Homo sapiens: one gene and its partner. The protein of the gene in region 1 purifies or fractionates together with the protein of each later gene. This does not show direct contact. Each region holds a gene or a part of one and is shown in the gene's direction. Other genes may lie near its edges. The genes, in order: TMEM106B and VAMP7.

Region 1 (3,824 bases):
GATCCACATTCTGTACAGAATCCCCTTTCCTTTCCAGATCTTTTCCTAATTCAGCAGCGATTTAACCAAGAGCCTGGAATATTTTAAGGAGTAATAAGAGACATTTACAAACTATTCTCTCTGAAGCCTGCTACCTGGAGGCATCATCTAGATAATCAGAACCTTGGCTTCCACATCCTCCTCCCTTGTCTTAACTACAAACATTTCTTTCTGCTGACTTCAACTCCTCAGGTAGAGTTTAACCGTTTCAACCAATTGCCATTAGGAAATCTTTAAATCCACCTATGCACCTATGACCTGGACACCCCCCAGCCTTCCACCCCTGCTTCAAAATGTCCTGCTTTTCTGGGCTGAATTAATGTATACCTTACATCTATTGATTTATGCCTCTGCCTGTAATTTCTGTCTCCAAAATGTATAATCAAGCTGTAACCCAACTACCTTGAGGACATTTTCTCAGGACCTGTTGAGACTGTGCCTCAGGCCTTGTTCACTCATTTTTGGCTCCGAATAAATCCCTTCAAATATTTTACAGAGTTTGACTGTTCCTTGACTGTTCTAAATTAATTAGTGTAAATATCTCAGAGTGTTCTTGAATGTACTTTTTTCCCTGAAGTTTACTGTAAGATTTTTATTTTTCTTTAGACATGGGAAAGTCTCTTTCTCATTTGCCTTTGCATTCAAGCAAAGAAGATGCTTATGATGGAGTCACATCTGAAAACATGAGGAATGGACTGGTTAATAGTGAAGTCCATAATGAAGATGGAAGAAATGGAGATGTCTCTCAGTTTCCATATGTGGAATTTACAGGAAGAGATAGTGTCACCTGCCCTACTTGTCAGGGAACAGGAAGAATTCCTAGGGGTATGTGTTATTGTATTGTTTTCCCTTTAAATGATTTTAGGTATTTGCTCAAGTATTATAAAAACTGTGGGTCTCAGGAACCACCTGTTTTAGAGGACTCTTAGAATTAAAGTTGAAACATCATATCAGTTACCTTCAGTCAAAAAGATGCAAAAGAAACAAATAAAGTATTAATTAAGGTTCCTAAAGCAGTAAAGAAAACCACCTCACTACCTCCAGTATTTTTTCATTCCCACCTGCTATTATAGCAGATATTCACTGTCTTGTAAATGAAAACTTTTAGTCCTATTTGGCATCTGTAGAGATGACATCATAGTTACTTGCTACTTTGCTATATCAGATGTTAGAAGCAATTTAAGTAATTTGTTGACCTATTTTTTTTTTTTTTTTAAGAGATGAGATCTCGCAATTGTTGGCCAGGCTGGTCTTGAACTCCTGTCCTCAAGCAATCCTCCCACCTCGGCTTCCCAGAGTGCTAGGATTATAGCAGTAAGCCACCATGCCCAGCCAGAGTTAATGTGTAAGGAAGCTTATTCTTTCATGTTATTTTTAAAATTTTATTTTTTTAATAATAAGGATGGAGTTTCCCCATGTTTCCCAGGATGATGTCGAATTCTTGGGCTCAAGCGATCATCCAGCCTTGGCCTCCCAAAGTGTTAGAATTACAGCTGTGAGCCACCACGCCTGGCCAACCTAATATTTTTAATTCATTATCTAAAGAAGAAGAATAAGCTGGCTGTGCCCTAATGAGTTAAAGAAACTCTGTGAAGAGGGATGGTACGTGAAAATGAGCCAAATTGAAAAAAAAAAATTGTTTGTGATATATCATAGGGGACGTCAGAAGGAAATAATCCCCTGTGTGCTGCTTGTAAGCTACTTTAGGAACAGTGGCAATAAGTAGAAATAATAAAGATACTTTATGCTGTTCTCATTATCTTCTTGGTGAAAGTTGATGTGTGACCCTGGAGATACCCAGAGGGAAGAAGGTCAAAGTATAAAGTATACTTTGTGTACCTTTTTAAGATGCTTAAAATGTATCTTAAAATGCTGTGGGTTTGAATTGAAGTTTACATTTGCGTTGGCCTTTGAGTATGATGGTTTTATTTTCACAAGGATAGTAGCTATTTAAGAATAAAATAATTATTGTAGTTGAAGGGATTAATGCACCAGGCTCAGGGGGTAGGGGAGTACTGTTTTAGCAGTCTGGTTACATTTTTGAGGTATGACCAGTAAACTTTTTTGGCCGCCTGGATACAGATTATGGAAAGTAGGAAATCAAGGATGACTCCAGAGTTTTTTTGGGGGGGTTTGTTTGAGCAACTGAAAGAATGTAGTAGCAATTTATTAAAATTGAAAAAAAAAAGATTATTTGAGTGTATATGTCACAGGAGAGTTCAGGAGCTCAAGTTTAGACATGGATATTTGGAGATGCCTATTTGACGTGGAAGTGGATATGTTCATTAGGCAGTTAGTTATCATAAGGGTCAGGAATTCAATTGCAGCGCCCAGCCTCAAGTTACCAATGTATAGATGACACTTAAAGCTCAGCTGGATGACAGCAGCAAGCTAGTCAGTGCAGATGGCAAAAATGAGACCCTAGCGAATCCTGAGACACTGTAGCATATCAAGGTCAGTGAAAGAATTAACAAAGGACCCTGAGAAAGAAAAGTTAGAATGAGAGGAGGAAATCATTGTGTGTGGTATCATGGAAGATAAGTGAAGAAAGTGTACCAAGGAGGAAAGAGTGACCAACTGTCATATGCTACTGATAGATTGGGTAGTGTGAAGACTGAGAACTGGCCATTGGATTTGGTTATATGGAGGCCACAGAAGAGTTTAAAAGAGCGGTTTTGGTAAAGACGTGTAGCATGTATAGAGTGGGCTCAAGAGTGCATAGGAGATGTTACATAGAGAGAAAATAGATTTTCTGAGGGGTTTGGCTCCATAGCAGAGAGAAGAGAGGTAGTCATTAGAAGGGGCTGTGAGGTCAGGAGAGGGATTTTTTTTTTTCTTTGTAAGATAGAGTGAATAATAGACAGTTGTATACTGATGAGAATTATCTGTAGAGAAAACATTGGTAATTCGGGAGATAAGAGAATTATTGGAGCAATGTTCTTGAATAGACAGAAGGGCAGATCTACTGCACAAGAACAAAGAGCTGCTCTTTTTTTCTATAAAAGGTAAGTTATAAGCACAGGTGGTTTATTCTTGGTAATAAAAGAGAAGGTAAAGTATGGACACAGAAGCAGGTAGGTGGATAGATCTGATAATAGAAGCTTGTAGAAATTATCTTCCATTTATCACATAATGAACTAAGAATGAGGATAGCGAAGAAGATATTAAAGATTTGAAGAGAGTTGAAGTTATAAAATTGTGGTCTTGGAGAGTCAGCTTGAGAGTATGAACTTGGGAAATGTAGTATGATTGTTGACATCATTAAGTGCTACTTGACATGAGTGATCAAAAATGAAACCAGTGAGTGTAGTTGTGTGTTTTTCTGTGTCCATGTTTAGCTCTGTTGATATATGCATAGGAGCCAGAGGGTTGGTTTTAACCAGGGTTGTAGTTTTAGCCAGATGAATACCACTAAACAAGGTGAGATATGTAAACACACAAAGATACAGATATCCATGTTATATGTATTTGTATAATTATATATGGGTGTGATGGGGGAGCACAGATGAGAGGAAGAGTATAGATGTGTCGGGGGAAATAACAGAAGCATTTTAGAAAGCTTTTAAAGAGAACTTGACTATCTGATACCTTAATAGTTAATATGATAAGCCAACTTCTAATAAGATTATAAAATTGGCATTTAAAGGTCCATTTATCCTTTAAACTTATGGATATAGCTCAACCCAAGAAAGAAATCACGGATTTTGAAGTGACTTTAACATGGATTGGGGTGAGACCTGAAAGGGCCCTGGAAGGCTCATTATGTAGGGGGCTCTTAAAGCTTG
Region 2 (3,824 bases), on another chromosome or scaffold:
GCAATGGCATGATCTTGGCTCACCTCAGCCTCCACTTCCCGGGTTCAAGCGATTCTCCTGCCTCAGCCTCCCAAGTAGCTGGAATTACAGGCGTGCGCCACCACGCCTGGCTAATTTTGTATTTTTAGTAGAAACGGGGTTTCTCCATGTTGGTCAGGCTGGTCTCGAACTCCTGACCTTGGGTGATCCGCCCGCCTCAGCCTCCCAAAGTGCTGGGATTACAGGCATGAACCACTGCGCCCAGCCAAAATTAAAGTCTTATTCCATGCAGGTATCTTTCAATTGTAAATCATTACTGCAAAAGACAAATTTTGTCTTTATAACTGATTAAAAACAACAGCAGTACAAGAGTGCTTGAGTCATGACTGTCGTGAATTTAGGATGTGCCAACCTAAGATCAGCCAGATACTTCTAAGATGTAAACATTAAGCATTGTTATTTTAGGTGATTTATTGACACCTATTTCTTTATAGACAGGAATGCAAGTGCAGCACTGAATTGTGTGCCATTGCTCGTTTATAAGATACACATGTAGATGATCCAGAATATTCTTATACATTTTTCAGTGTTATCAAAATACAAATGCAGAATTAAAAGATTTCTCAAAACACATGGACTTGGCCTTTCCCCTTACTCAGTTACCTGAAACTGTCTTCAGCCTCTACTTGAAGATGCTTCTGCTGAGGAGGAGCATTTTCATCATTGCTGTTCTATGTTATTACCAAATTTTTTAATACAGGCAATTTCTTACTTACAAATGGATATATTCTAAAAGTACTGTTGTAAGCTTATTGTTTGGAACGCTGGATGCATTTCCTTCTATAAATAATGCTATCCATGACATTTACACTGTTATGCCAACCAGTATCATTTTATTAACTTTTAATTTAGTGGACTCGAAGACCTTCCCCACAATTTACAATAATTCCTCTATTAAAAAACTGCATTTATAATTCTCATTTGAATTCCCTTATAGCATATCTTTTTTTAGAAACCCAACAACTAGAACAAAAATATCCTTTCTTTAGTCCCTTAACATAGTAAAAACAGGCTTTTCTAACTCCAAACTGTTGTGGGTGACCCTTCTAGCCCTTAGCTCTAAGGACAGTCCTCCAATATGAGCAAGGAAAACGAAGGGACAGAGGTTTTAGAGAGGGAGGCAAGTTGGGTGATATGAGTATCTGGAAAGGGAAGGGTAGGATTTATTTGGGATGAACAGTGAGTTTCTAAAATGGAAGTTTGCATTGCTTGTCAGCCTTTTGGCTAAGATCAGGTGTAGTATCAGTTTAAAATGGGGGTTTGTTGTGGGTTGAATTGTGTCCTCCAGAAAGCTGTGTTGAAGTCCTAACCCGTGGTACCTGTGAATGGGATCTTATTTAGAAATAGGATCTTTGCAGATGTAATTAAGATGTAATTGAAAATGGGGTCATACTGGAGTAGAGTGGGCCCTTTATCCAATATGACTGGCATCCATATAAAAGAAGAGAGACAGAGAGAATGCAGTGTGAAGACACAGATACAGAGAACACCATGTGACTACAGAGGTAAAGATTGAAGTGCTGCACCTCCAAGCCAAGGAACACCAAGGATTGCCACCAAACTATCAGAAGCTAGAAAGAGATAAGGAAAGATTCTCTTCTACAGGTTTCAGAGGGAGCATAACCCTGCCAACATCTTGATTTTGGACTTTTAACCCTCAGAACTGGTAGGCGATACATTTCTGTTGTTTTAAGCAACCAAGTTTTTGGTACTTTATTACTGCAGCTACAAGAAACTAATACAGGATTCTTAGCAGGAATAAAGTAGAATTGGGATGGTGGCTGTGGGACCAAGTGGGGAGTGAATAGGAGAACAAAGAGGAACAGTGTTGATATGGGGCTTTCCTTTATGTTGCATTATCTTTTTTTCTTCCCTTCTCTCTCTGGCTTATCTTTTCATTCTTTTTCTTCTTGGATCTTATCTTTATATAGCACTTTATGGTTTATTAGGCATTTACATACTGCTAATAATTAGCAGAGCCAGGTTTTCTAACTTCAAGTGCAGTGTTCATTGTGCCACAATTGTTTCTGTTATCCCAATACTCATCAAGACGTTATGGATTCTATTACAAGACACTTACAATGGGGGCAGGTAAGACTTCATAGGTGGGATTTTTAGCAGTATAGCAGAGAGGAAGGAATTCCTATTAGTGACATCTGGAAGGAAAGTAAAGTTTCTGTTGCTATGTACCCACTGTTTAACAGTCATTTTTAAGTTGGGGACTGCTTTTATTGGAAGAAACACTACTTGCGTATAACTTATATTCATTGTTCCTAGTTATATTCTGAATAATGTGCTCCCTGTTCCAGGTGACTGTACTTTATATAAACTCAAAAACTATTGTCATGTTCCCTCTAAGTCCTCTCTTTCTCATGTTACATATCTCTAGTTCCTCCAGCCAGTCTTCAGATGACACAATCTCCATGTCTCTCACCCATATTGTATTGCCTCCCTTTTGTCTAGTCGTTAAATATTCTACCCAGAATTGAATTCAGTATTTTACATATGTTCTAACCAGCACAGAGTGTAATGGGACTAGTACTTAAACAGGTCAAGACACCCTATTTCTTAATGTACTTTGAGATTATGTAAGCATTTTTAAGCAATATCGCATACCGTTGGTTCATAATGAACTTACAGTCCACTGAAACACTAGATCTTTTTGTATTAATTGTTGCCAAGGTCAAGTTTCCTTCTGAACCTGCACAGGGACTGAGGCTGCTGCTACTTTTTCATCTCTCTGTTCCAGGGACCATATGATTTCTTATCTCTGTTTCTCTTTGTGTTTTTGTTCCTCTCTACTGTGTCTCTTTGACCCTAAGCAATGACCTCCTTCCTTGTTATAAAATTTCACTGATTGTTTTACAGTCTTCATTCTCTTTCTTTCCTTTCGGCTTCTGGGCCACCACACTTTTGGCTTTCCCATTTGGTCCTCCTCAGTCTTTGTGAGTCTCTATTTATCTACCTTTCCCTCAACTGTTGGTTGTGCTTTGGGTTTTATCTTTGGCACTATTTTTTTTTTCTGTATGCAATATATCTTCAGCAAATAAATCATGTTTAAAATGGCAGATCTAACTGAGCTCATCTGGGAATAAAAGGGCACAGAATCAGTCCCGGAGGAAAGTCGACATTTAGAGGTCAGGTAGAGGAGGAAGAGTCAGCAAGAAGACAAAAAGAGCAGCCAGAGATGTAGGAGCATTTCAAGAAGGAGGGTCGGTCAGCAGTGTTGACTGTGCCTAAGAGGTCAAGTAAGGTAAGAATAGAGAAGCAACCACTGTATTTTGCAATATAGAGGCTGTTGGTGACCTTAGGAAGCATGGTTTTCTGGAGTTTTAAGGGCAAAAGCTGGATTATAGTAAGTAGAAGAGTTGAAAGGAGGCAGAGGAGCAGAGATAATGCGTAACGATGCTTTGAAGAAACAGAACAGGGCCAGGTACGGTGGCTCATGCCTGTAATCCCAGCACTTTGGGAGGCCAAGGCAGGTGGATCACTTGAGCCCGGGAGTTCAAGACCAGCCTGGGTGACATGGTGAAACCCTGTCTGTACAAAAAAAAATACAAAAATAGCCGGACATGGTGGCACACACCTGTAGTCCCAGATACTCCAGAGGCTGAGGTAGGAGGATCACTTGAGCCTGATAAGTGGAGGCTGTAGTGAGCCAAGATTGTGCCACTGCACTCTAGCCTGGAGCTTGGGTGACAGAGCAAGACCCTGTCTCAAAAAAAAAAAAAAAAGAAAAGAAACAGAACAGTAGGATCCACAGTTAGGGAGGCTTTAGGATCAAG

What was found.
Region 2: the proteins of TMEM106B (region 1) and VAMP7 purify together in Homo sapiens (affinity purification with mass spectrometry; one large-scale study listed by BioGRID and IntAct). This does not show direct contact.

The regions. Positions count from the first base shown.
Region 1 is NC_000007.14:12,214,164-12,217,987, forward strand, and holds part of TMEM106B (transmembrane protein 106B), read left to right. Parts: intron 1-37; exon of another isoform or gene 38-231; intron 232-645; 5' UTR 646-647; coding exon 648-864; intron 865-3,824. UniProt on the Homo sapiens protein: In neurons, involved in the transport of late endosomes/lysosomes. May be involved in dendrite morphogenesis and maintenance by regulating lysosomal trafficking.
Region 2 is NC_000023.11:155,884,181-155,888,004, forward strand, and holds part of VAMP7 (vesicle-associated membrane protein 7), read left to right. Parts: intron 1-3,824. UniProt on the Homo sapiens protein: Involved in the targeting and/or fusion of transport vesicles to their target membrane during transport of proteins from the early endosome to the lysosome. Required for heterotypic fusion of late endosomes with lysosomes and homotypic lysosomal fusion.